Homo sapiens: one gene and its partners. The protein of the gene in region 2 interacts with the protein of the main gene of each other region in a biochemical or structural test. Each region holds a gene or a part of one and is shown on either strand. Other genes may lie near its edges.

Region 1 (7,023 bases), on a different chromosome or scaffold from region 2:
GCATTTTGTTACTTCTGCTTTTCATTTCCATTGCAGTTGGTTGCCTCTTCTTGATTAGCTCCATATTATGAATCCTAATGTGGGGTGAGTGGCTGGGGTCGGTGGGTGTCTTTGGTTTCCCAGATTGTCCCTTCACTGGCATCCCCAGAATCTGGTGGAAAAGGCCTGTGAGCTCAGACACCTCTTTGCTCTGAGCTCACAGCAGGCCCTTTGCCTGCAGGGAGCAGTGGGCGAAGAGGATCTACTTAAGGGGTTTGTGGCTTAAATGGTGATGGAATTAGGAGGCTAACAGTTCTGCCTACTCTTTGGCCAAACCTCCTAAAAGAGTACTCAGGAGGAACCTTTTGAGAAGTGAGAATTCTAAGCATAATGAAATTCCGTAAGCATAGGCAGTGTTTTATATAGTGTTAGGCTAATAGATTCTTAGATACATTAAAATACTCTTTGACTAGGTCTGGACATAGCACTTAATAATAGTGTGCTCAACATGGGGAGCACATTTCCAGAATGTGAGAGTAGTTACTAGGCAGAAAAGAAAGAGACTAGGGTGGTGATGATCTGGAAACTTTGTCCCATCAGTGTCAGATAAGGAAGCCAGGGAGATTTAGTGTGAAGGAGGGGAAAACATGGTATAAACAGTTTGGGAAAAACAAAAAACAAACAAACAAAAACCCCAGGAGACTATGGTCTGAGGAGCAGAACCAGGGATAGGGATGGCAATTTTGGATCAGTGTCAAGAAAAACCTTGATGCCAGATAGAGAGCAGTCCAGCAGTGGAATGGACACAATGACCTTCCCTTCACCTGTGGTGCTCAAGCTGAGATTAAATTGATGATGAGTTGTGGCTACTGCCATCCTGGTGTGTGCAGAATTAATGCAGTTTTGTTCTAGAGGGCAGCTTTGTCTATTGAAATGTATTTTTGTTGTTTCTCTGCTTGACAAAGTTGGTATGAGAGAGCAGGCTTTTGTAATGATGCTGTAAGAGGCTCCGGATTTCTGGGCATGATGGGAGTACATTCTGGACATTGTGTGAGTTGAAAAGAGGCCCATGCTATGCAGATCTCTGGGACATCTCTAGATGTGATGTTACTTTTCTCTTCCCACAGGCCAATGGCCATGTGTCTCAGGATCAAGAGGAACCCGTCTACCTGGAGAGCGTGGCCAGAGTACCTGCTGAGGATGAGACCCAGGTGGGGCCTCTGCTTGGGTCTGTGTCTTCACCTTTCCTCTTTCACTGGTGTTCTTCGGAACCTCTTAGCAGAGTCGAGTGGAGAGAGAATAAATGTGTGATGATAGTGCTTCCGAAATTATATTTTTGGGGTAGGGTTTAGTGTTAGTGTTCCAGGTTAACTAGTGAAGCGGTCAGTGTATTTATAAGGAGTTGTGAGGTCACAGTGGAGACGGAGAAGCCTCATGGCCCATTGTATTTCCAGTCTCTTGACTTTCTAAGAGCTGCCGGAGGGCAGGCTTGTGGTCCTGCTGTTAAAGTCTTGTTCTTTCCTTGCTTCTAGCACACTGTAGCCATTGTCAAGGGAAGGAGGTCAGACAATTAGCCAGGCAGGGCCAGTCCAGAGCACAGACCAGGGAGCTGTGGCCAAGGTTGTGTATAGAGGAGTACTTGCCAGGGAAATGTGCCTCTTGTGGGCAAGCAGAAGTCTCCAGGGGAGAAGGGCCAGCACCATGCTGGGTTTCATGTGCGGCCATATTTAACCTCTACAGGACCCCTGTGGGGTAGGACTGCTCTCTCCCCTTAATGGAGGGGCAAACGGGCTCAGAGTGGTAAGCAACTTGCTGGATATTATTTAGCATTAACAGCAGAGGAGTCAAGATTCAAAATTAGGGTCATATGACTCAAACCAGCACTCCTTCTACTATACTTCTATCTAGTACTATATCACACTGATTGGTTGGTCTGTGTCTGTTTGCTCCTGAGCACAGAATCGTGGGTCAGGAAGAGATTCTAGTATATTTTGCAATGCAGAGCACCATGCCAGGTACTCATCCTGTCTCTGTTCCTACCCTTCATGAGGTCAGTCACCAAAATTATGATGTGGTGACTGCTTTGGGGTCCTTGGAGAAAGAGCTTGGGGAGGTAAGAGCTGAGCACACTGATCTCATCTTTGTCATTGCAGTCTATTGACTCAGAGGACAGCTTTGTCCCAGGCCGAAGGGCCTCTCTGTCTGACCTGACTGACCTGGAGGACATTGAAGGCCTGACAGTGCGGCAGCTGAAAGAGATCTTGGCTCGCAACTTTGTCAACTACAAGGGCTGCTGTGAGAAGTGGGAGCTGATGGAGAGAGTGACCCGGCTATACAAGGATCAGAAAGGACTCCAGCACCTGGGTGAGGGGCTATCTGCATGGTAGCTTTACAGAGCTCAGGAGTGTTTGCTGTCACTCCAAAGCATGATGGTATTGACCTGACTCAATTTCCACACTTAAGCCATGGAAGGAGACACCTTACATATTTGCACCGTCTAATAATAGCTGTCATTTGTGGTTGAGTGTCAAAACTAGATTAGGCATTGCATGTATGTATTTATTCCTTAGAGCAACCTATGAAATAGACATTATTAGCATCACCCCTTTATCTGAAAGGTAAAATTTAACTGAAAATTTTATGGTCTAAGTCCATAGCCTTTCTCACCATATGCTATCCCCTCCCTACTCACCACCACCTTGTAAGTTTTCTTACCTTAGAATAAGAATGCTTGTTCTGAAGATTTGGGAGGTAGAAAGTGAATCTACATACATGGCAGGAGAAGATAGCTGTTCCATCTGCACTTGGGCTCTTCCTTTTGTTCATTTCCCAGAGCATTTTACACTGTATCATTCAGGAGATGCCCAGGAAAATATCTGGGTCTGTGGTTAAATGAGTTTAGGGAAAAATACCTCATATCTTCATTACTGATTTATGGTAGATTTTTATATTAAAGGCAGAGAAGTCCTGCAGAAGAGAAATGTGTTTTGGCTGTTTTGAACTTAGCATTTCCTGAAATTATTTCACCACAGAATCTTCTCCTTTCCTCCCATCCCCAGTTGATTTGGTTCCTACAGAGCAACATACTGATTCCTTGCTTGGTAAGAGTGGTTGAAGTCAGGTTTCAGGCTCTCTTCTACCAGTAGCTCAAATTCATCAGTGTTAGGGGTCATCTGACTGACTCTTCACCCGATTACAGACTGAGGCCTACTGACATGGAGTCTGTTTTCCCTTTGGGATTGTTTCAAGAGTCTTCTCTCCAGTCGTCAGGACCTGGGGAACAGAACAGATGACTCCACGTGGGAACTTTATCCAGATTCTCTGACTGACTGAAACAGCTAGATAGTTCATTCTTTCTTGACTTTAATGCTGACTTCAAAATAGAAAAGGATATTGCACATATACAGTATCCTTCTACTTGGCAGTTTGTGCAAACTGGTGGAATACCTTTTCCTAAGAGTAGACCAGGCTGGGTGTGTTGGCTTATGCCTGTAATCCCAGCACTCTGGGAGGCTGAGGCAGGTGGATCACTTGAGATCAGGAGTTCAAGACCAGCATAGGCAACATGGTGAAACACCATCTCCACCAAAAACAAAAAATTAGCCGGGAGTGGTGGCATGTGCCTGTAGTCCCCAGGTACTCAGGAGGCCGAGGCAGGAGAATCGCTTGAACCCATGAGAAAGAGGTTGCAGTGAGCCAAGATCATGCCACTGCACTCCAGCCTGGGCAAGAGAGTGAGGCTCCATCTCAAAAAAATAAAAAATAAAAGTAGACCAGATGCACGAGTAGGAGCTTTGTGTGAGTTCTGAGCATGTAGAGCGAGTAGAGGGCAGATGTCCATCTAGGCTCTTGGCAAGCCTGGTTCCCAGCAGGGAGTGGTAAGAGTTCAGAAATGATGTCAGGGCAGTAAGAGACTGTATTTGTACCATCATGCCTTACCTATTCAGACATCCTTCTCTTTCCTTTTCAGTCAGTGGTGCCGAAGACCAAAACGGTATGTAGTTGTTTCTGTTTGGGAATGGGCTTAGGCCCTTTTGTCCTTCCCCTCCTTCAACCCCAATCCCTTTAGTAATCTAAGAATTCTGAGCATTTGAGCCCCCAGAGAGAGGGTGTGTGGGAAACTCACTGAGACCCAGGGGGCCTCTCACCATCTTTAGAAATTCTCTCTGCTCGCTGTGCAGGAAGCAGAGTGGAGCATACGTAGGGGCGGACTGACTGATGTGCATGTCCCTGGGCTACCTGAGCTCATAAGCCAACATTTGTAAAACACTGAAACAGAGGAGGGGTGGCATGTATCACACTCAGCTCATTTTTTAAAATCTTGGTGTTTTCAGTTCTGGTCTGGGTAGGGAGGGTCTCTGTGTACACCTTCTGGGGAATCAGGGTGTTTAGCAGCTTCTGGTACTAACCAAAAAGAAAGGGTGGTGACCTGAGACAGCCCTGTTTGTACAGGGCTGGTAATGGTTAGAGCTACTCTGGAGCTAACACATGTGCTACTCTCTGGGCACAAGCTATATATCTCAGCTCAGCTGCCACTCACTTAAAGACCACCACTGGGCCCTCAGGTACTCCCAGAACACACTGCAGAACTCCTGACCATCTGTGGGGACATTCTAAAATATGCTATGTGTTTTCAAAAGCCTCAAGGGTATATGGTTGTGAACTCCCTTCCAAGAGAGAACGTTCTAAGAGTAGTGTTGGACTAGCCTGCAGCATTTTAAAACTTATTTCAGAAGATTTCCCAAATTTATTTAGTAAAATGGCCTTTTGCTCAGAATGGGCAATTTTATGTCTGATTACTTCTAATCAGACATAAAAAACAGTTGAGCTTTTCTCAATTCCCCAAAACCATTTGGAGTTCTAGACCCACCTCCACCCTCCAACCCCCCAGCATCACCGGTACCAAGATCAGGCTGATCTACTTGGTGCTTCCTTTCTTTTTCTGATTCCCTGGGAGAATGCTGACAACTGAGTTAATGTGTTTGTTGTTACTTCTGAGAGAATGAGTAACTGAAAATTATAAATTATTCCCATTCATCTTAGGTATTTGTATAGTCTCCAAACCTCTGTTAGGACCAACAGCACCTCAAAAGAGGCAAATGGGTTTCACTCCCTTTCACACCCAGCCTACCTCCTAGGGGGAAGTATTTCTTGACTTTTTAATAGTCCAGAAAAGAGAAAGTATAGATGCAATAAGGGAGAATTCCTCTATGGGTTGGCCAACCCCCAGATGGTAGAGGTGACTTCTGTGAGATCAGTTCCTTTTTATGGGTACCTACTTCAGGCTACAATTTAAGACATATTGGAGATGGCTGGGCTTTTGAACATTATTTTTTCTGTTTGGGTCAGCTCTACTAGGATACTGGTCATGCCCACTATATTCTGCTAGTGACACAAGCCAGTTAGCATTTATTGAGAACCCTGTGCACTCAGCAGTTGATACTGTCTGGATAGTTTCTACTCTTAGGGCAGTTAGGCAGAAGGCCATTCTAGAGCAGGAGCTGTGGGGCCAGCCTGCCTGGGTTTGAATCCTGGCTCCTCGACTTAGCAGCTTTGTGCCCTTGGGCAAGCCACTTAACTTTTTTGCCCCAGTTGGCCTCATCTATAAAATGAAAATAACAAGAGGTCCTACTTTATAGTTTTTGTGAGGCTTCAGTGAGTTAACACATGCAAAGCTTTCAGGACCCTGCCTGGCACACGGTAAGCATTCAGTAAATGTGGGATGTTGTCATTCCCTTGGGAAGATGTTCATTCATCAGACATTTAGAGTACCTACCATATAACTGGCATTGGGGGCTTCAAAGATGAATATCTAACCTTGGAGCATGGAATAAATGCTAAGCATATAATTGTAAAAATTGATTGAATATGTTGAATTAAAGAGCTCATAGTCTACTCTGGGAGTAAGTAGGCAAACTCAAAATTTTAATCCAATGTGATAAGCAGTCATGGGGGTATAAAAAAGTTTTGTGGGGGTAGAAAGAGGGAGCAGTAATCTCTGCCAAGTTTCTCCACCAGGAAGTTTCCTCAGGAAACCTGGGAGTAGTTTGTGAGATAGCAGAGGGGTCCCCCATGATCCCTGACTTTATTAAATGGAGGATATGTTTATAGATAAAGCCTTGTGATCCTTAATGAACCATTCATCACAGTTCCATTTCTATCTAAACTTTTCTGAACCAGTTTTATCTTTTTAGCCTGTTCTGCCTCAGGGGATAATGAGTCCCTACGTGCCACTCACACACTCACTATATTACAGCCCCAACAGTCTGAAAATTATTTCTTTTAAGCTTTGAGAACTTTGCCTTAGTTCTCATGTTCTGGGATGTGTCTGATCCACAAGTGCTGTGTACTTTTCAAATCTTTACCTGTTGGAGGGGATGAAGTGTGGATTAAACAAGTAACCAGAGTTGGTTATTGAGGAAATGTTTCCTCGGAGGAGCTCTATTTGAGGGAAGCATGTGCACTGAGACTTTGTTTACAATGTACCTGTTATCTCCCACCTCCCTCCCCCAGTCACCCCTATACACTTAAGACATTCTCCTCACTCCTCTGCCCCTTTTTTTCTGCCCTGTGTGTTTGTACAGGGGGAGCAGTACCATCAGGCTTGGAGGAGAACCTGTGTAAGATCTGCATGGACTCACCCATTGACTGTGTTCTTCTGGAGTGTGGCCACATGGTAACCTGTACCAAGTGTGGCAAGCGCATGAATGAATGTCCCATCTGCCGGCAGTATGTAATCCGAGCTGTGCATGTCTTCCGGTCCTGAGAGCTTGCATCGGTTTCTTCAGTGCCTTACAGGGAAATAGCCTGGGGTGTCTGGGCTCAGGGTTGGCCAGCTTGCAGAGGAGCAAGCTAGTAGAAATATTGCAGGGTTCCCAAAACCAGGTCAAGCAAGATGCCATGTCACCCCTGAGCATGCCTGTCTTCCCAGGGGTGTACCTCTTGGCTGGCAAAGCCCAAGGCCAGTGGGAACTTGTATAAATCACATGGGTATGTTCTTGGTTCAGTGATCTTGGAGTGATGATGGTAACTGATGAACAGAGA
Region 2 (7,378 bases):
GGCTAACATGGTGAAACCCCATCTCTACTAAAAATAGAAAAAATTAGCCGACGGGCATGGTGGTACACGCCTGTAGTCCCAGCTACTCGGGAGGCTGAGGCAGGAGAATCACTTGAACCCGGGAGGTGGAGGTTGCAGTGAGCCAAGATCACGCCACTGCACTCCAGCCTGGGCAACAGAGGGAGACTCCCTCTCAAAAAAAAAAGACTCCGAAGGCCCAGATTCTCATTCAGTCTGGGCTACTTCGAGCAGTCACTGGACATCCCGGGCCTCAGGCTCTTTCTCACTGGAATTTGAAAGCAGCTAAGATTCTGACACGGTCACCTCCAAATTGGGCCATGTTCTGGCTGCCAGATGCCTTCAGAGCCCTCTGGGGCCCAGCAATCTCCCCAGAGCCATCACCCAAGGGCCACAGCTGCTGCAAGAGAAAGGCCTCATGGTGTGGAGAGGACACTCTTCTTGCCAGTGTGGGAGACCCGGCATTCAAAAGAACAGTCCTCCTCAGTTCCTCACCTTGTGTCGGGAAAACTGATTTGTTGCCCAAATCTCATGACTGTGAGAACAAAAATCTGTGCTGATATGCAAACTCTGTCAGTGGAAAGAATGAACCACTCCTCATCCCAGGGAGAAACCTATGTTTTGGTTTTTCTCAGCTCGATTTTTCTGCCATATTTGGAGAAAAACTCCTTAAAAAAAAAATATCGACTGGGTGCGGTGGCTCATGCCTGTAATCCCAGCATTTTGGGAGGCTGAGGTGGGTGTATTACTTGAGGTCAGGGGTTCGAGACCAGCCTGACCAACATGTATTTTTAGTAGTCTCTACTAAAAATACAAAAAATTAGCCAGGCATGGTGGCAGGCGCCTGTAATCCCACCTACTTGGGAGGCTAAGGCAGGATAATCACTTGAACCCAGGAGGTGGAGGTTGCAGTGAGCTGAGATCGCACCATTGCACTCCAGCTTGGGTGACACAGAGTGAGACTCTGTCTCAAAAAAAAAAAAACACTCTCAAACATAGTTTATTATATAGGTGAATCCTGGTCCCTGTGATGGGCTTATTGGTACGATTTCTGGTAGCAAGCATAGGTACCAGGGCCTCCAACGTTTTTGGATTTGCAGCAACGGGGGTCAGCTACTGACAGGGTCCAGTCATGCTGGATGAGGATGCCTCTGGTCCTTTTGGAAGCCTCATCCATTTATTTCCGGTAATAGGCCACTAAGGCTTTGGAGATGGACTGATGTTGATAGCATAAATCTGGGTCACATGACCACCACCCTTCACACAAACATGCGTGTGCATGTCAGCAAATTGCTCCTTGCCCAGAGGCAGAACTAGGAACTAGTTCCAGCAGCTTGAATTGCAGCGCTCGGCTCCATCATCTCCAGGGGCCATCCATTCACCTTGATGAGGCCACTGCCATGTTTGCAGTGGATTGCACGGACTGCAGCTGGCCCTTGGATGGCATAGCCAAGAGCACAGATAAGAGCTCCTCACTGCACGGCACCGCAAGCGGAAAAGGCACCTCTCTTTTTTTTTTTTTTTTTGAGATGGAGTCTCCTTCTGTTGCCCAGGTTAGAATGCAGTGGTGCGATCTTGGCTCACTGCAACCTCCACCTCACGGGTTCAAGCGATTCTCCTGCCTCAGCCTCCTCAGTAGCTGGGATTACAGGCACACGCCACCATACCTGGCTAATTTTTGTATTTTTAGTAGAGACGGGGTTTTGTGATATTGGCCAGGGTGGTCTTGATCTCAGGTGATCTGCTTGCATCGGCCTCCCAAAGTGCTGGGATTACAGACATGAGCTACTGCACCTGGCCTTTTTTTTTTAAGTTGTCTCTAGGGACCTTGTAGATGTTTTCCTAGATCAGGCCATGACAGGACCAAGCAGACCACTTAGAGGGGAGGTGAGGCCCCTTTCTGCTGGATGAGGGCGTTTCTGAGGAGAGCTAGGGGGTACCTCAAGGCCCTGGGTTTGCAGGGAATGGATTTATTAACTGAAGAATAAAACACTGGGAGTGGGGGATGGCACAGTTTCTGAGATAAAAGAAAAATACTTGAACCCTCCATCAATCTGCCATGGGCTCAGGCAGACAGGCAGAAAGTGAAACAGCGGAGAAACCAAAAGTGAAAGGGTGCATTCACATTTTATACAACTTTCCCACCAAACAAACTGCCCTACTCAGAAAACACAAAAGAAAAAAAAATTAGGACATTTTCGGTGTGGGGCATGACAAGATAAGGAAGCTGCCTGGAAGCTGGGTGCCAACTCCATGAAATTGGGGGAAACTAATTGCTGGTCACGTGGGCCTCACCAGGGTGACAGAGATCCCTTCTTTCAGTCCTTTAAGATCTTTGGAGAAAGTCAAGTGGCCATACATAACGACAGGGTCTGGGTTTTGTTTATAAATAACCCAGGAACATTTTGTTGTTTTCAGTTTTCTAGGGCTGGGTTTTCCCAGCACACAGGGCTCTGGGGAGATTTGAAAACCATGGCGCGTCAATGAGAATGCTGCCGGGGCGCCAGTTTGGAGCAGCCTCATTGAGACGACTGAACAACTACTTCATTCAGGATCCTCAGCCCTGGGCCCTTCCCTAGATCAACCCAGAAACTGCATCTCCGGGGTGGATCCCTAACAGTGCTGAGTAGGAGGCAAACACTGTGGCTTCTAAGGCTGACCCGGGAAGTCTGGACTAGGCCCGCCGGAGGCTCCTCGTCACCAATTGGCATGCAGCCTCTGGTGACAGCTCTGCCTAGGAGCCTCAGTATCTTCTTTTGAGAATAACACCAAAAAAAAAAAAAAAAAAAAAAAAGGGGGGGGGCAGTAGCTTGTGTGCTTTACTATGATGAAAAGAATCAAATCAAAGCACTAAGGGGCGTAAGATTGCAGGCAGGGTTGGAATTACTTATCCGCTCTCCAATGGTTAGGGAGCAAGAGGGGAGGGCAAGGGAACTATCTATTCCCTCGGAAGGGATCTTACAAGCGGTAGGCGAACAAACCTCCCATCGTGTCCTCTCTAGATTCCACCACTCAGTTCCCCTGAGATATCCCCCGTTCTCAGATTTGAGTTCCTGCCTCTTCCTCTTAGCCTACCAGCCCAAGTTATCCCCTGATACAGGCCCCTAGCCCTCCAGGCTTCCACATCTCCCAGAAGCGAGGAAGTTGGACCTGAGGCTTTCAAAGTCGCAGGTTCAATTCAGATCTCTTTAAGAGCCCCCAGGGTCCTGCTACCACAGGTTGGTGTCTTGATACTGGTTACATAACAATCAGTCCCCAAAGCTCTGACATCACCCACTGAAGATTCTCACCAGCCTGGACAGCCAAAGGGGTCTGTGTGTGGCCGGGGAGGATGGCGGGGGAGTGAGCCCCATGGAACAGCCAGGAACTGGTAAGGGGAGGTAGGGCACAGATCCCAGTAAATGATGGTAAATGGTGGTGACCCCGAGAGGAAAGTGGAAGTATTTGGGTTTTTAAACTTCCCCCTAAATTCCCACAAGATTTCATTGTTGCCCCCACACTTCCCCTCTTCCCCACATAGGGAATTTCCGATTTCACTTCCCAATACGCAAGTGGCCAGAGAGCCTCAACTTCCTCCTCATGCCCTCCCTGCCTTGCCCCAGCTATAGCCTTTGTGGGGAAGCCTTCTCTTCTCCCGCGCGAGTCCGGTGTCACCCATGTCCTCCCTCGCTTGCGTCCCTCTCCCATTCCCACCCCGTCGGCCTGAGGGGAGGTCAGGCCTCTCGCTGCCCATTTTTCTTTCCCCAGTCACCAGCCCGCCCCGGATTCTCTACTCCCTCAGCTTGCTCTGCTACCACTTTCCTGTCTCTCCCTCTCCCAAAGCAGATAAAAGATGAGGGGACAAAGACAGTGTGTGTCTGGGAAGCTGGGCTGAGAGGAGGAGGTGCCGCCGCCTGGGGGTACTCCGATGCTTCCGGGGATTCCGAGCCAGCTGGAGGACCGCACGTGGCGAACGGCGGGCGCGGCGCGTAGTCAGGGAACCAGGGTGCCTGACTGGGTGTCTCGTGGAGCCATCCCGCGGGGGTGTGGGGGGGCCACGGTGCCGGAAGGCGCGCGGCCCAGAGGCCGTCTCCGCCGAACGCCCGCTCCTCGCCTTCCTAACCGCAGCACTTTCGCGAGCCTCCCTACGAGGGGCGGGGCGAAACAGGTGCGGTTGCCACGGCACCCGGACCACAGCCTCGCGAGATTTGGAATCAGCCAATGGGGGCGGGGTAGGGGAAGACGTGGCACCAGTCGGAGGGGCGGGGCTGGGAGGGGCTCCTCCCTACCGCCCCCAATTCCGCCCTGCCCCCGCCGCGGCGGCGCTAGCCGCCACTGAGGGACCGACCCTATAAAGGCCGCTCCGCGAGGGGTGCGCAGCATTCGGCAGAGGGCGCTTCGACGGGCTGGGCTGTGCGCCTGCGCAGTGTGGGTCGCTCCCGATTCCCTGCCCCGGCCGGCCCCGCCTCGGCTCCGCACCCTCGCCCCGCTCTCAGCCGCCGCTCTGCCCCGCAGCAGCCAGCCCCGTGTCCGGCAGTATGTTCAGCTGGGTCAGCAAGGATGCCCGCCGCAAGAAGGAGCCGGAGCTCTTCCAGACGGTGGCTGAGGGGCTGCGGCAGCTGTACGCGCAGAAGCTGCTACCCCTGGAGGAGCACTACCGCTTCCACGAGTTCCACTCGCCCGCGCTGGAGGACGCTGACTTCGACAACAAGCCTATGGTGCTCCTCGTGGGGCAGTACAGCACGGGCAAGACCACCTTCATCCGACACCTGATCGAGCAGGACTTCCCGGGGATGCGCATCGGGCCCGAGCCCACCACCGACTCCTTCATCGCCGTCATGCACGGCCCCACTGAGGGCGTGGTGCCGGGCAACGCGCTCGTGGTGGACCCGCGGCGCCCCTTCCGCAAGCTCAACGCGTTTGGCAACGCTTTCCTCAACAGGTACCCACCCATCACTCCAGGGGGCGGGGGGCGCGTCCGGGGCACACCCCTCACTCGGAGCCTGACCCTCCCGTGGCTGTCGCCCCGCCGTCCTTTGTCTCCGAGGCCCCAGTGAGACCCTCAGTGACCACTCCCTGGTCCAAGGGCCCTGCCCCTTCCCAGAGTAAACCCACTGGGGGTCTAAGAGTGGGCGTTGTCGGCTCCCCCAGCTTCTGTCCTCCCCAGAATCTTCCAGGGTAACCACCAAGCCCTCCTGCAGATCCCAGCCCCACTCCCCTCAGCAGCAGGGCCGCAGTAGGAAGCTGAGCCATTCCTGCGCTCCTTTTCTTGGTCTCCACCTCCGTCCCGCAGGCTGGATGCACCTAATTCACGGAAATCAACCCTCCCCTCCCTGTCTTCTTAAGTGTCAATAGCAAAACACAATGAAACTTTTAGCCATTCCCTTCTCTGGTGCGGTGTGGGTCTGCTCTGCCTCCCCTGGGACGGTGGTTTTGTGTAGGAGGGAGGAGGAGGATCGGCTGTGGCTTGCTGACTTTGGGGCAGCCCCTTGGAGGCAGGGGACAGTTGAGGTTCGAACACTTCTCCCAATGGCAGCTCTCAAGAGGTCAGTGCTGCCCTGAGGGGTTTCAGGAAGCAGGATGAGGTGGTGGCAGTGGGAGCCCTGCAATGAGATTCTGGCCCTAAGCCCTTCTGTGCACTGAGGGACAGAATCTGAGGTTCCTTCACCCACTTGGACCTCACTTTTCCAGTTAAGTGGCCTCTGCACGCGAGGAGAGTGAGCTCCAGGACTCTGCCTGTCTCAGTGCTGTGAATGAAACACAGTGCTCCCGCCCCTCAAGGAGTGCAATGCCCAAGCTCACTTTTCTCCAGAGAAACTCGAGACATGCCCGTCCCAACCCCCAGGCGACATACCAAAGTACTTCACAGACCCTGTCCTCCCTGCCACCCCACGTTCACGGACTCCACATGCCTTTCATAATTCTGCACCAGCGAAGAGCCTCTGAAGGAATCTTTGAATCCTGCCTTCCAGGTCCCCGCCCTGCACGGTCACATTCCTTTCCAGACGCCATCCAGCTGTGCAGGGCAGCTTGCCCTAGAGCCAAGCTGGTGGCCAGGCCTACTCCAGGCACAGAGCTGACCTTCAGCAGGGTCTGTTCACTTCCAGGCATTTCAGCCCGCCCTCCTGTTTTACGGCTGTTGATGTTTGTCTGTCAAGGCCAGGTTGAGTGCAGCCCTTTGGGCTAAGGGTCCTGAAGAGGCGGAGTCCTCTTCACTTTCCTTGTGAGGGCACACCTTTTTTGAAAGGAGAGACATGGCACAGGACCAGTTTTCTGAATTTGGAAGCCTAGAGTTTCAGAGCTGGAAGGATCTTAGACATCATCTTGGCAGCCCCCACCTGACTGGTTCAGGAAACCGAGGTTCAGAGGGTCTGGCTGATGTGTGGAAGTCACCCATTAGGTCAGCCAGCACTGACTGCCTGGCTTTTGCACAGCCAGTTACTGCTTTCTGCTGCTTCTACCCGAAAAAGAGCAATTCGAGATTGCTTTGTCCGAGACCGGTGCTTTGATGACATTGGTGCCACAGGATCTGAGAGGTGGCACACGTTTATTTCCTTCTTGCTGCCACCTCATCTCCAGAGGATCCCTGATCACTGATGGCCCTGCCGAAAGGGCCCTATCAGCCCACGCTGAGGCCCAGAGCTGTGCCAGGATGTGTAGTGTGGGGAGTGAGCCCGGCGAGGAGGGTGCAACAAAGGAGGCTTTTCTCTGGCTGATACAGCCTCTCCCAGCTGAGTCTTGAAGAGACTCATTGAGTCGTGAACTTGACTTGCCGGCCTTCTCCCCCTATGTGGCTGCTCTAAGAATAAAATCAGCTGGAGCAGACCAAGGCAAGGTGCAGTCAGGGTGTCTTAAGAGTGTCTTGCAAAAACTTATTGCATAACTGGGACTGCCACTTGTGCGAGATGAAACCTGTGCGTTCTTGGTGAGATGGAATCGGAGGCATCTTTGCTGCTTCCCCTTTCTTGTTTTCTGCCATATACCCTGGGCTCTGCAGAGCAACTGGTTTCTGGGTCCTATAGATATTAACTCACTTTCTGGGCTCATTTATGAGGCATTTTTATGTATGTGATTTCCCAGAGCCAATTCTGCTTCCCATCCTTCTATTCTGTAATCATCTCTCCAGCGCCTCCTGTCCCCAGCAGGAAGGCCAGGACTGGCCTTCATGCATTGCTACTGGCACTGGCGAGAGTGAGGCCCACGTTTTGCTCGCCCTGCAGGTCAGCTGGTCTTGCTCCACTGCCTTGCAGAGCACCCCTTGCCCTGGCCAGCTGCCCTCTGCCCGTGGGCCCCTGGTCACTGGGGGATGGGGCCAAAGGGAGAAGCTGATCGGCTCAGAGTCCTCCCGTCTGTTGGAAAGGCAGCTTCAAGTCTGTGTCCT
Region 3 (7,023 bases), on a different chromosome or scaffold from region 2:
ACAGTTGTTGTTTTGTGCATGGAATAAAAAGGTTCTTAGGACACTAATGCTTTGTGAAGGTTTTAAAGGCTAATACCTTTAAGTGCTGGGTAAAAATTAAACTTGAATAGCACCGATGAAATATTTACTCATCAGATGGCTTTGAAGTTTAGCGTCTTTTGGTTGCAGTCCCATCTAATGGACATGTTTCAAAGAAGAAAATAGTTATAGCATTCAGCTGTGATGTTTTCTTCTCTGCATGGGAGAAATCTGTGTTGTTTTGATTCGTTTCAGTATTTAAATTTTCAAGACTAGCTACTTAGAAATCACATTAACGAGAGAAATGTTTCCCACAATTCTGAATTTATTCTTATTGATAGGGTAATGTTTGAAAGCTGAGTTTTCTAACACTTATGGCATTTTTAAACAGATTGCTTTAACTCTTTTATTCTATAATCTTTCCAACCTAAATTTACTTAATTCTCCCTAGTTTTATATCAGAGGGCCTAAGGTGAGTGACTGTGTGTAAATATAATGGGAAATCTCTCACACAAATTAGTTTTGCAAAATATCTTGCTGGATAAAAGTGCTATGTTTAAAGTTGTTTAGAAACTTCCTATTTCATTCTTCAGTTCTGATAACTAAAAAGTTTTCCTTCAAAGTTTGAAATTGTAATGATGCTTTAAGAATGTTGGGGAAATACTGGATTTTTTTCTACTTCTTGGATTAAATTTCACTCCTCTGAATAATGTAGGGCTTTAGAAATTTGTATTACAATGTTGGTTAAAATTTTTCTATTTTTATGTTTCCTCCCACATGAGTTATGACACTTTTAACATTTGTTTGTGTTTTATTAGTTTTCATATGAGTCCAACAAGCAATGAAGACCTCAGGAAAATCCCGGTAAGTTGCTGAAGGGGTTAGAGGGTTGTCAAAGAGTAAGCTGGTCTTTTTCTCTGGCACACATTTCTAAAAATGCCTTTGTCTTCTTGCCTTCTGCCTCACTTACCTAAGAATTGTAGCTTAGCGTAGTAATTTTAGGAGAAAGAAAGAAAGTAAAATACAATCTTTGCCTTTAATATACAATAGGGTGTGACTCGTATGATCTATGAAAGTTCAAGCAAAATTGGTTATAATTGAAGCCAATTTAGAATATACATATTTTGTTTACAGACTTTTGAAATTAATATGCAAGCTGTATGTCAGGGTCAAATTTGTGGTTATGAAATAAGAGCACGTAGAAAAGACTATTTTTTGTTGTTGTTGGGACAAGGATTGAAGAAAGAATAAAGCTGCTTGTTAACATTCAACAATAGAAAAGCATCCTGGCAGGAGAGCCAGATAACCAGGAAAGTATTTGAAAGAACAAATACTTTAGGACACTTATCTTTCTCGTCAGAACAAAACCAAATATGTTAACAGGATTGGTAGCGACCACCTAAATCAACTCACGTATTTTGCAAGGATTATTCAGATAATCTGAACTTTATTGTAGTATTTGAAGTCCAGTATTTAATCTCTGTTCAGAGTTCCATTGCATCTGCAATCAATTCTAACTATATTAAACGTAGAGAATAAATTACTTTGCCAAAATATGGGCAAACGTTCTTGGTAGAAAACTAAATTCTCACTGAATAACAGAAATAGAGGCTTTATTCCAAGACACTGGTGGTTGCTGTTTCAACCATCTGTCCTTGATGTGTGCGATCCAGATGTATAGTAAGAATTTTTTTAGGCAATCCCATATCACATATCACTATTTTTTAGGATGTGACATGGCTAGAAGAAGCTAAGGTGGGTTTAGGGTTTATTTTCTAAACCATTCTAAATGCAGTTGTTTATCTTTAAAATTGTGGAAACTGTTACAGAAGCACAGGACTTTGTACTGTGTTTTTGCTGTTTTATTTAAACGATTCGTAAGTTTTGATGTTTTATAAATTCTCAAGTCTTTATAATATGGCAGTCTGGCGAGAAATGTGAGAAAATATGAAGTCAGCCTTTGATCAGATAGTAAAATGAATTCTATCAGGCGGTTACTTAATCTCAAACAAAATGCAACATCAAAAAAATCGATTTAATGTGTAGCTATTGTTTATTAAGTAACCTTAATTACAATTTCGATTGCTTGTAAATGTACTTTTCCAAATCTTGTAATTTATTGCTGTAGAAGCATCCTTAGAATTCTTTAAAGAAATAAAATGTGAAAATTGTTTTAGTTAAAGGATTTAAAGGTGATAAAAGAATCCTTGATGTGTGATTATTTTTCTCTGGAATACTAACTATTCTAAATGACAGTTAAAGGATTACTAGGTGTTGTTAATTTACTGCAAGATACAATTAAGAGGAGGAAGCGCATCTTCGTACTGATCATGATTGAAGAAAAGCATTCGAACAATTTTTATGTTGAAGATTATAAGATGTTTGAAGTAATTTACATTAAGTTCTCCAATAATAGCCATCCACCAAGTTATTTTTTCTCCCTCTGGACATAGTATTTTGTAATTAAGTTTGTATGTCTTATATGCTAGTGCCAACACCTGTCTGTGAAAGCACAGTGTTTAAACAGGAGCAGTAGCCAGTTGAAAGGGCAGTGTGAGCTCTTTAAGGCCTAATTAAGAACTGAAAGGGAGATGAAGGGAGTAGGACAAAAGATGTGAAAGTAGCTGAGATGATATTCCCAGAGCAAAGTTCCTCATTAGAACAATAATGAGATGATCAGAGAATGCCAAGCCTTCATTTTTTTTTCTCTCTCTCCTCTAGTTGCCTTGGATGTCAGTTAGTACCCCACCAATATTTGGTTACCAGGACAACCTTTCTTTAAATCTTCAGTTATTTTGAGTCTTGATAATTTGCTTTTGTTTAAATTTAAATATTGTAAAAAATGTACATTTCCTAGTTTAAAAGGCTAGACTGTGTAAAGCAAAAATAGATCACTAGCAGTTCTCAAAATCTTATGCAAAACTGTATTATTTAAAATTCTGGGTTAGAAAACTTCATGTAGTAATTCTAATATTTTCTTACCAGTCCACATCTTCTATGTCTGCATATGGACATTTTTAACAGAGGTGGAGTAGAAATGAGAAAAGGTTGGTTGTAAAAGGGGAAGAGAGAAGAAAAATTTACATTAAATTTCAAAATAAGAAAACATCTTAAAAACATAAGTGCTGTCTGTATGGAGTACTGTAAGAAAAAATATTGAGCACTTTGGAGTAACCATTGTAAGTTGCATTTGGTCTTTGCCAGTTTAGAGAGTTATGAATTTTGCAAGTTTTTGCAAGAATAATCTTTCGAAAAAATAATTTTTATATTTACCTGAGAGTTTTCCTCTCTAAAAAAATAATTTTTGTAATGAGCATATGTTTTAATTTTCTATTGTTTATATTACTTAATCATTATTTTATTTGGAGTTATATCAACAAACAGAAATATATATATATATGTGGAGTATATCAGTCAATTTAAGAATCTCATGCCTAAAATTAGAAGGTTTACATTGTTTTCAAATATCAGATAAAATCTGGAACTCAGCATGAAACTGTTTTTAATTATTTTATATTCTTTTCCAGAATATAATTCATAGTACATATGTTTCTAAGATGTTTTCCTGCCTAGAAACTTGATGCTAAAATTTGAGGTGAAATTTTCACATAAAAGGACAAACGGAAAATTTATTGAAAAGGCCAGAAATGTATTTCCAGGAAATCTGTCTACACATTAGTGTTAGATTGTTGTAAGGAAAAAAAAAATAATCCAAATAACATATCTGTGTATTCTAGAGTATGGCTATAAAGTATGACCAGTAGTCTGAAATAATAATTGATTATTTTGAAAGATTAAACTATTAATTTATATCATGGCTTTAATTTATATCAAAACACAAATTTTTGAAACGTTTTTCATCTTCAGTGTCTTTAGAGAAATGTTACAAAAAATTTTTAACTACATTAACTGGTAATAGTGTTAAATATAACAGTGCACTTTTATTTTAACTATTTCATAGCTTAATTAGTTTGGAGAAATCAGTTTATATATGTGTAATTTTATTAAGATTAGAGAGACTTGAATAGATGCTTTTATTATGTTAAATAAAGAAAAAGCATAAAGCAGTCAACTAATCAGTAATGAATCCCATTTAGCTTCCTTTCATTAATCCCTGCAATTCTCACAAGAACATGAATTTCTCAGTAAATGTTTTATTAGAAAAGTGAAATCACATTAGTTAGAGTTTATTAGTTTTTAAAGTGGGGTTTAGAAAAATCACTTGGTATACCAGACAATTTTAGAGTTGAAAGGGACCATGGAGAACATCTCATCTATCAGATAAGGAAAGTGAGACCCAAGTTGCTTTCTCTCTCAAATTTATGCAGAATTACTCGAGTTGAAGTAAGACACTTTAGCTTATTTTTAAGAAATTTCAAAAGTATACCGAACTCTACACTATGTCTTCTCTTTACTGTAGAAAACGGCTTAACATAATCTTTTATAAGAATGTAATTAATACTTATGTATCTCCAAACTATATATTATGACCAATTAAACTAGTAACTACGTGCATGAGAGTGTGTGTGTGTGTGTGCGCATGTGTGTAGACTTATAAAAGATTAATTGATCTGAGAGAGGAGGGAGAAGTAAAACAACACTTATCTCTAGAATTGTCCTTTAATGGTTTTAGAACAATATTTGAAATGTTTTTAAGGATGAAGGAAATATGACTGAAACTTACATCTGTTTCCAGTTTCTAATGCTAAAATAAACTAAGTTGTTTTAGACATATTTTATAGAATTTAAACTCACTTCCCTTTAATATCCTCTCTATTCATTCTTGCTAACTCTGGTCTTTCATATTTCAATAGCCCTATACCTAATCTTAGCCCCTCCAAATGATTCCACTGTTGCCATTTTACTTTTCCTGGAACATAGCTTTAATCATATCCTTTCTCTGTTTAGAAACCTTCAGTGGCTTCCTATTTTCCATAGCAAAAGTCTAAAAATTCTTTATACTACCATTCAGCATTCTTGGTGGTCTATTTCAAACCTTCCATTTCGGCCCCTGTCTGCTCGCTGTCCTGTACAGTATTTTCCAGCCATGCTCTACAGAGTACCTGTTATTGGATTACCTGTTGGCCACTATGCCTTGAGCCTTGTTTCCTTCTTTGAACAAGCAGAGTTCACTGCTTGAAATGCCCCATTACGCATTTCTGCCTGCAAACTCTTGAAGGCCTAGCGCAAGCTGTATCTTCTCCACAAAGCCTGAGAGATTCTATGAAATTGGAAAAGTTTTTCAGTCCTGAATGTTTTCACTTATCCTGGAGAAGTGGGTGTGCTTCAATGACCCAAGCATCAAATTGGTATCTGTACTCTAGCTTCTCTTTCTCTGGTCTGGTAAAGTCCTGGTTCCTTGGGCTGAGAGGCTGGGGAAGTGGTGAGGGCCAGTGAAAAGTTAAACTTTGGCTTTTCTCATGAACACCCCCAAATACATAGCACTATTAAAGTAGATCCTGAAAACAGGGAAGGACAGTTTAATTCTTATTGGGGGTGGGGGTCATTCTGCATTCACCAGTCCCCATTCCCCATCCTCCACTGAATAGATTAGATAGTATTCCTTAACAGCAAGAAAACCAATTTCCTCAATATTTTAGTTAAGTTTCCTTAAAGCCAAATGGAAATGTTTTAAAAGATAGTGATGAAAATTATTTTAAATTGTTGGGCTTAATGAGAGAACTATGATTTAAAAAGAATAAAAAATTGCTTAGTTGTAATTGGGCATTATGTTTTACAGAATGAAAACTCTTAATGCTATACACTATAAATAAAAGATTATGTTACAGGGCCTTGATTAAATTCCTGAGAAATATTTTTCTTTCACTTTTGATATAACATTAATATTAGAATGCTTTGTAATAACAGTGAATTAATAAGTGTCTTTTAAAAAAGATTTTTGGTTATATTTATGCTTTTGCCTAAAAAGAATTTTTGTCAATAGAATAAAGTTAAGTAAATAGATGAAATGGGAGAGAATGCAAATATACTAACCGTAGTATTAATATGGTTGAACTCTTGAGTTTCCTGATAACCAGGGTCAAAAAGGGAAAGAAGATAAATTAGATATTATTATAGGAGAAAGAAATAGACCAGTTACTCAGGGGAGGAAAAGTTCTGCCTGTTTCTAAATTAAAACAGAAGTTACTCACATGGGGCTTCCTGTAAGGATAATCTTTGATTTAATTCCGAGTGCTTCCATTTTCATAGCAAATTAGAAAAGATTTTTGCTGTAACCATCTTCACTAAGAAGCCAAACATATAACATTAAATCACAGTTCAGTGGAAGCAGTTTCATAAGGACACAAGTCCAAGTGTATAGTTTTCAGTTACTTCTTACAGTTCCTCTGAGTTAACTTTTAGAAATCTTTAGTTTTCATCTATTTTAGTTGTATTTATTATAGAATATTTCATCTCTTAATGTAATCTTACATGATATAACCAGTCTCAGATATTAGGAAATTGCCCACAATGTTAGAAAGGGTTTTAGGATTTAGAGTTATAGTCAAAACTTTGGTGCATCTGCCCTAGTTCTTGCCTCAGGACTGGCTAGCCAATTTGTGAACTGTCACATTCACTTTAAGCAAGGCTAGCGAAAAACTTCATCAGGGTTTGAAAAACAAAAAGTCGAAGTTCCAGGTAATTCTTAATGTTTGTCCCAGATGTTATATCTATGAAAGTGACAGTCTTTATCCTGTTCTAGGACAGCAACCCCTTTGATGCCACTGCAGGGTATCGTAGTCTGACCTATGAAGAGGTTCTACAGGAGCTGGTGAAACACAAAGAACTCCTTAGGAGGAAAGACACCCACATCCGGGAACTCGAGGACTACATCGACAACCTCCTTGTAAGGGTAATGGAAGAAACGCCCAGTATTCTCAGAGTGCCGTATGAACCATCCAGGAAAGCTGGCAAATTCTCTAACAGTTAATAAAGCCAATTGTATTGTATTGATAATTGGACAAAGAGAGAGAAAGAAAGAAGGAAGGAAGGAAAAACTTGTTA
Region 4 (7,650 bases), on a different chromosome or scaffold from region 2:
TGTAGGTAGGTGCTTAATACATAGTTTGTTGAATGAACTTAAAATCACAAGCCTAAGTCATTTGTTGAGTTACAGATTTTAAACTGGAGTCATGAGATGAATGTGTTAGATGCTCTAATATGCCAAACACTCTTAAATCCCTCAAATACTTAAAATACCATATACACACAGATTGTTTCAAATCTGGGTTAAAATTGAGGTTAACTTCTCAACTGGCTGAAGGTGCGTATCTCTGAAGATGTAAGTCAGGGAATGAGATCTGAAGCTGCAGACAACCAGCGTGACTTTTTCTCGTGACCTGAGGACCATGCTGTGCTCTTGATTCTCCTCCTCCCTGCACTTAGGGCCACCGTGCAGGTTGTATGCAGCATAGTTGGGAGTAGGGTGGGGGTGGGGGTAAGTGGATGCTGAAATCCAGTATGTGCCCCATTTGCCAAATGCAGGGCTTGAGTGCCAGCACAAGGTTTTGTCCATGGGAGAGAAGGGAGTGGTGCCTCTTTCCCATTTGCCACAGGCCCCAATGGGCTTGGAGTGGTCCTGCTTTGTCAAAGACAATGCCAGCCCGCTACCTGCAAACTGATTGGCTTTGAAGCTCACATCTCCCAAGTCAATTCCATGTTTCCTGCTTTTCAGGTTTGCTGAGGCTGTTCCCCCACCCACTATTGGATTTAATGAATCTAGTTGCTATGTGATTCTATTCTGAGTTCTTTTTGGAGACATCCCATCTGGCAAGGCCATGACTCTCAAAGCTATTTCTATGACACCAGATTGGATCCTCACACCCTCATGCTATTGTCTGACTCAGCGCAACACAACAGCCAAGGCATGTGAATTACACTGCTCTTCCTTTTTCTTTATTTAACAAACATTTACATAGTCCTTCCCCTGTGCCAGGCGCTGTTCTAACACTTTCCAAATATTAAGCTATTTAACCCTCCAACCTAAGAGGTGAGTACTATAATTATCTCATTTCACAGATAAGGAAACTGAAGCTCAGAGAATTTAAGTGACCCGCCCAAGGTTCACGTGGCCACAGGTGGCAGGGCTGGGATTCAAACCCAGGTCGACTTTTGCTCCATCTTCGCTTTTTTCTTGTCATTCTTTCCCTCCCTCTTCCTCTTCCTTTCTCCCCTCGTTTTCTCTTCCTTCTTCATTCCCTGCTTCCTTCCTGACAGGGCCACAGCAACTGCCACCTGCTTCCCTCAGACACTGCCCAGCCCAGCACACCCTCCCTCCATCCTCCAGGCAAGGCTCTGCCAGGCTGTCTGTCATCACCCTCATTTCTCTGTGCCAGCAGACAGGGTGTGCCAACCTCAATGCCCTCAACCCGCTGGCTCAGACCACAGCAGCTGGCAGAGGCCTGGGAGCTGGGGCCAGGCCAGCCTGGAGGGCAGTTGGCCCTTCGGGAAGTTACATGATGTGCCCAGACCTTCCCCAATGACGTTTATGTTATCCATATCATAATTTATTTTCTTGCCCAAGGATTTTAATGTGGTGCCAAGATGTCTTGTGCTGCTTGGGATAAACTTAGACAAATAAGGGCCAAGAGAAAGTGAGAGAGTGAGATAGAGAGAGGGATAGAGAGACAGAAAGATAGAGAACCCTAAGGCAGGGGGCAAGGGTGAAGAGACCCAGCTGTCCACGATTCTCTCACTAGAAGTGGCTGCCTACAGTTTTGGGAACAAGGAGGAGTGGCTTGATATCATCCCTCTATGTGTGAATGAACTTTTCTGTGAGTTTCTCAAAGGACTCATGTTCTTCTCCATAACTATGCCTTTGCATATGCTGTTCCCCTGGCCTGGAAGGCCCTTCCCAATCGTTTCTACCCAAGGACCATGCTCACGTGCTGCCCGCTTCTGGGAAACCTTTCGTGAATTCCTGCAGGGGACTCTGCTGGTCTCTCCTCTCACACCAGAGCATCTGTGTGCACGTGCACATTTCTGTTTTGAACTAATTGGCTTACATCCCCTCTCTATGCCCAGTACAGGAGTGGTGCCTGGAGGAAGCTGAGGAGGTACAGGAAGTCTATCAGCACTTCACAGAGGAAGGAAAAGTGGGGATTGTGAAAGCCTCAAGGCAAGGTGACTCTGGGTTCAAGGCTCACCAGCTGGTGACCCTGGGCAAGTCACCTAACCTCTCTGTGCCTCAGCTTCCCTTCTATAGAATGGGAATATTATTACATTTTGTATAGTTTGTACATCATTGGGTTGTGTGAGAATGAAATGAGTTAAGATATGGAAAGCACATAGAACAGTGTCTGGCATGTGCAAATCCCTCAGTAAATATTAGTCATTTTTATTATTATCAAACTGGAAATAGTCATAGAGTTGCCTAAAGGATTAAAGAAAGTACTTTTGATGAAGTGTGAAGCATATAGGAAGGTCTTTGTCATTATCATTAACAGTATCGGCCAGGCGCGGTGGCTCACGCCTGTAATCCGAGCACTTTGGGAGGCCGAGGCGGATGGATCACGAGGTCAGGAGATTGAGACCATCCTGGCTAACACAGTGAAACCCTGTCCCTACTAAAAATACAAAAAATTAGCCGGGCGTGGTGGCGGGTGCCTGTAGTCCCAGCTACTCGGGAGGCTGAGGCAGGAGAATGGCATAAACCTGGGAGGCGGAGCTTGCAGTGAGCTGAGATCACGCCACTGCACTCCAGCCTGGGGGACAGAGTGAGACTCTGCCTCAAAAAAAAAAAAAAAAAAAAAAGAAAAAAGAAAAAAAAGAAACAATATCAAGAGCAGTGCCCAATCCACTGTGATTTCCAGAATTAACTTACAAGTTGAGGCCACATAGCTATTGCTTTTTTGAGCAAATGAAATGATGAATATGATATTTTTTTCTTTTCTTTTCTTTCTTTTTTTTTTTTTTTTTTGAGGTGGAGTTTCACTTTGTTGCCCAGGCTGGAGTGCAGTGGGACAATCTTGGCTCCCTGCAAACTCTGCCTCCTGGGTTCAAGCAATTCTTCTGCCTCAACCTCCTGAGTAGCTGGGATTACAGGCGAGCGACACCACACTCGACTAATGTTTTATATGTTTGGTAGAGACAGAGTTTCACCATGTTGGCCAGGCTGGTCTTGAACTCCTGACCTCAAGTTATCTGCCCACCTCGGCCTCCCAAAGTGCTGGGATTACAGGCGTGAGCCACCGCGCCCGACCAAATATGTTTTTTGTAAATGATAAAATGACAAGCAAAAATCATGATGGTTTAATAAACGTTCATTGCCCTACCCAAAACATAGTCCTGCCTGTAAGTGTGGCTCGTTTTGGGACCTCGGTGGCTTCAGACTTTCAAAAGGGTGGTTTTACTCCCAAAGTCCTGGCTTTTGGGACCTAAGGCAGAAGCTAGTGATGGAGACGGGGAGCTTGGCATGTTGCTTTGCTTCTGACAGGTTAGGAAGCCTCTTCCTTGTCTCCATCAGTAAACAAAGGGAAGTCATTATTCGCTCCTGCAGATGTTGTAACGTTAAAAAAAAATTGGCCATCAGATTGAGAGAAAAGGCTAAGTCACTGGAGCCAATTTCTTTTGTACAGATGAGAGAACTCAGGCGAAGAAAGGGGAAAGGACCTGCTCAAAGCCACAAAGTAACGTACAGCCAGGGCTAGAACCCAGATCTCTAGACCCCTAGTTCACTGCCCTTTCACTGGTGATTGCTTTCCAAAAACTCAATGCTCTCCAAGTCCGGAGCCCCATGTCCTTAAATGGAAGGTGATGGAGGCTCAGTGCTCCTGTCCAGAGACCAGGTGGGGAAGACTTTTTGGAGGCAGGGAAAGTGAGATGGGCAAAGCCAATATGCAGGACACCCTCCTACCTACCTACCTACCGTGCAATTACCTCAATCTTCACAACACTGTGAAGCGGAGACTATCATTATCATCCCCATTTTACTTCTGTAAAAGGGGGCCAGTAACACTGCAGGGATGTAAACGGAGGCCCAGGATCGTCCCATCGTCCCATCGTTCTCTGCAGCTCTTGCTCCTAGAGGCTGGCTATTGCTAAGGTCCAGAACGTGTGCAGGGCACAAAGCAAATAGGTCTCCGGGACTGGGATGAGGTTTTGCCTCTCTATACCCCGTGGTACCCAGCACAGCGTAGGCACGGGGTAGGTCCTGGCTGATCAATCGTCCTGCCTTTTGAAAATGCCATCTTTTCCACAGGCTTGGCCATGCTGTACACCCCGGGATACACCTTCTCATACCAAGTCTCCACTCTCATGTGGTTCTATTCTTGGACTTTCCATCGCCTCCACGTCCCCTGAATATTTTTTCTGTCTCTAGCTCTCAGGAACTTTGATTCCTTGGCTGCCTTATTCTTTGTGCACTTTGGTCAAGAGCCAAAGATCTACTGGTCTCAGCTTTCCCACCTGTACAAGGCGGTGCAGAGCCATTGGCTGGCTTTGACGCGCTATTAGTTCGAATTCGGGACGTAAGAACCGCACAAAATTACCGAGCCCCACTTTCTCTCCGCTCCCCACCATCCCCTCCCTCGTTCGGAAAGCGCCTGCGCAGAAGCCGCCGGCCCGCCCTCCACTATTCGAATCCGTATCCGCCCTTTTCGCGCCCTCGAAGACTCGGCGCTCGACAGGCGTCTACCAGCTTGTCTTCCGGTTTCGTCGCCGCCGCAGGCGCACCTGCCGAGTTCCGAGCGACCGATGGAGATGGCGGCTGCGGCTGAGTGACGGACGGTGGAGGCCCAGAGCCCGGGCCTGAAGGGGGGGACAAACCTGGGTGCCCGCAGGAGCCCGGCAGGGTACATACAGAGGGTCAGGCCCAGTCTGGGGGGCGGGGACACGACTCCTCCAGAACGGAGACGGGCGGGCCGTGTGTGGTTGTGGTGGGTGTGACGTGAGAGGTGGGAGATGGGGCTTTCAGGCCGTGCGTTTCGCTTGTGTGTGCCTTTGATGATTGGGCTCTGTGTGGTTGTGCGGTTACGCGGGGCGTATACACTTGGGTTTGGTTGTGCAGCTGTGGGTGGAGTGGGTGGGTGCTTGTCTCCCGAGCGGTTGTGTTTGATTCTCTGGTTGTGTAAAGCTGAAGCGTTTGTATTCTGAGTTCGTGTGGAGATGTTCGGAGTGTTTTGTGTGGTGTCTGTGCGATGTGTGACGTTGTCATGTCTGCTTCACGGGATTGAGTCGTTCGTGTTGTGTGTGGTCATGCGATGTGTGTATAATCATGTTAGTTATGTGGGTTGTGGTTGCGATCGTGAGGCCGGGTTGAGTGCGGCTGTGGGATGTGTCGTCGATGCGGCATGTGGCGGGGTGACATTCATGCTGGATGTACGGCTGCAGAACATGTAGCTATATTTATTTTTTTTATTTTTATTTTTTTTACTTTTTACGTGATTTAGAGTGCGAGGGGCTTGCTTATGTGTTCAGTTATGGTTGTGGGGTCCAATTCGGTGGTTGTGTTAGATTTCTTTATGGTGTATGCTTAGTTATATGATTTTGGAGTTCATTCATTTCTTCGTTCATTCATGGAGCTTTATTGTGCTGCTTCATTGTGTGTGCCAGGTACTGTGCTAAACCCTGGGGAGACGGCGAAGTGGAAAACATATAGAGTCTGTGCCCTCCCAGATTTTACAGTCTTACTTGGTCACTTCACGTATGTACCTGCGGTTATAAATTGAGATGAGTGCTGTGAAGGAGAAGTCCATTCTGATGCTCTGAGTAAGAGGCATTTCTTTTGAGGAAGTGAGGTTTGGGTTTGGGCTGAGGCGTGAAGGGTGGTTGTGTGGCATGGATGTGGTGGGCTTTGTGTTATTTGTGGTCGTTAGGGGTGAGTGCATGGGAAGAAAGGGAGCTGTCAGAGTCAGCATCAGATGAACCACTGGCTGGGGAGGGAACAGGCCAGACCTAGGGCTGCTATATTCCAGTGGAAAAGTTATGAAGTCACTGGGTTTCTTAACTAGAGGGAAAAAATAGGGACCTGGTGTCTCATTTGTTTATTTTCTGAGTTGCTGCCACCCTTCAGCTTTGAGGACCAGGCAGTCCCTCCTCGGTGGTCTTCTACAGTCCATCCAAAGCTGAGGGTCACACATCTCCCCTCACTATATACTGTGGCTTGTATCCCCAGGTTCTTGGGGAGAAATTTCTCTGCTTTTGTGGAATGGTTTTGTCTCAATTTCTCTTGTGACTGGGTGTCTTGATGAGGTGACATTGGAAGTGACTTTGCCATGAGCCAGTAAGAAAGAGAATGTAACTTATTAAGCCCTGAAGTGTTTAGGCCCCAAATCAATTTATTTATTTATTTATTTATTTATTTACTTTTTTGAGATGGAGTTTCGCTCTTGTTGCCCAGGCTGGAGTGCAATGGCATGATCTCGGCTCACTGCAACTTCCGCCTCCTGGGTTCAAGCAGTTCTCCTGCCTCAGTACCCCCACTAGCTGGGATTACAGGCGCCTACCACCACACCCGGCAAATTTTTGTATTTTTAGTAGAGATAGGGTTTCACCATATTGGCCAGGCTGGTCTCGAACTCCTGACCTCAGGTGATCCGCCTGCCTTGGCCTCCCAAAGTGCTGGGATTACAGGCTTGAGCCACCATGCCTGGCCAGCCTTTTATTTTTGAAGCAGTGAGAACATCAGGTTTGCTACTTAACTGTCACTTAATGGCTTATAAGATCTGTCAGGGTGCAGTGGCTCACATCTGTAATCTCAGCAGTTTGGGGGGGCTCAGGCAGGAGGATTGCCTGAGGCCAGGAGTTAGAGACCTGCCTGGGAAACATAGCAAGAACCTGTCTCTATAAATAATTTAAAAACTAGCTGGGTGTGGTGGCATACTCCTGTAGTCCCAGCTTCTTAGGAGGCTGAGGCAGGAGGATCACTTGAACCGAGAAGGTCGAGGCTGTTGTGAGCAATTATAGCTCACTGGGTGACAGAGCAAGATGCTGTCTCTTAAAAAGGAAAATATAGTACGCCCATTAGAGATAAGTGCTCTACAAATATAAAATAGATTTTTTCTTTTTGACTAGTAGGTTTCTATTGTTTCTCTTTAACTGATGTTAGGATTTTTGATTTTTTGTATGTTTTTATGGCAGATACTATATCTTTTTCATCTTTGCATTTCTAACACAGGTGTCTTACAAGTATCAAGAACTTACTATATGTGGTTGAATAAACAATCAAGGTAAAGAGCATCAAGTAAAAACTTCTGCTTGTTGATAAGTACTTCAGACATTCCCCCAGTGGCTGAAGTGGCATATGAATTATGAAGTTGGATCATTTGGAATGAATGTAAGAGAATTGCCAAGGTATTGTTTGCTTATTTCAAGAATCTGTGCTTCCCACTTCATTGAGTTTTTGTTCTCCAGTGATGTTTTCACATTTTAGGTTTTGCAGCTTGCTTGGTCTAAGGATTTGAGAAAGAGTTTGTTTTCTCAAACTTGCACTGAATAAACATTAAGTACCCCATTGAACTGTGAAAAGAATGAAGAAAATCCTCAATTGCTACCAGTTTGCCTGAATTGGCTTTTTTCCCTTCTTCTTTTCTTTCTTAGGGCTCCTCCTACTCCAGAGAGGAAACCTCATCCAGGGCCATGAAGCCACTTCCTCACCATCTGTGTGCTGCTTAAGCTAATGCTGCGGGAACCATGGTTCCTTGGGAGGAATCAAGCTGACTCTTGGCATGAGATTCCTGCCTTCCTAGGGTTG

What was found.
Region 1: of the proteins of EHD1 (region 2) and RFFL, one has a biochemical effect on the other in vitro, tested with the Homo sapiens proteins (one study listed by BioGRID).
Region 3: the proteins of EHD1 (region 2) and RAB11FIP2 form a complex in vitro, tested with the Homo sapiens proteins (one study listed by BioGRID).
Region 4: the proteins of EHD1 (region 2) and RBSN form a complex in vitro, tested with the Homo sapiens proteins (one study listed by BioGRID).

What each region holds. Positions count from the first base shown.
Region 1 is NC_000017.11:35,011,690-35,018,712, reverse strand, and holds part of RFFL (E3 ubiquitin-protein ligase rififylin), read left to right. Parts: intron 1-1,106; coding exon 1,107-1,190; intron 1,191-2,132; coding exon 2,133-2,343; intron 2,344-3,949; coding exon 3,950-3,973; intron 3,974-6,563; coding exon 6,564-6,745; 3' UTR 6,746-7,023.
Region 2 is NC_000011.10:64,875,622-64,882,999, reverse strand, and holds the start of EHD1 (EH domain-containing protein 1), read left to right. Parts: upstream 1-4,378; 5' UTR 4,379-4,512; coding exon of another isoform or gene 4,513-4,535; coding exon 4,536-4,939; intron 4,940-7,378. UniProt on the Homo sapiens protein: ATP- and membrane-binding protein that controls membrane reorganization/tubulation upon ATP hydrolysis. In vitro causes vesiculation of endocytic membranes. Acts in early endocytic membrane fusion and membrane trafficking of recycling endosomes.
Region 3 is NC_000010.11:118,008,924-118,015,946, reverse strand, and holds part of RAB11FIP2 (rab11 family-interacting protein 2), read left to right. Parts: intron 1-836; coding exon 837-882; intron 883-6,721; coding exon 6,722-6,949; 3' UTR 6,950-7,023. UniProt on the Homo sapiens protein: A Rab11 effector binding preferentially phosphatidylinositol 3,4,5-trisphosphate (PtdInsP3) and phosphatidic acid (PA) and acting in the regulation of the transport of vesicles from the endosomal recycling compartment (ERC) to the plasma membrane.
Region 4 is NC_000003.12:15,096,135-15,103,784, reverse strand, and holds the start of RBSN (rabenosyn-5), read left to right. Parts: upstream 1-4,636; 5' UTR 4,637-4,750; exon of another isoform or gene 4,751-4,763; intron 4,764-5,510; 5' UTR 5,511-5,666; intron 5,667-7,074; 5' UTR 7,075-7,250; intron 7,251-7,496; 5' UTR 7,497-7,650. UniProt on the Homo sapiens protein: Rab4/Rab5 effector protein acting in early endocytic membrane fusion and membrane trafficking of recycling endosomes. Required for endosome fusion either homotypically or with clathrin coated vesicles.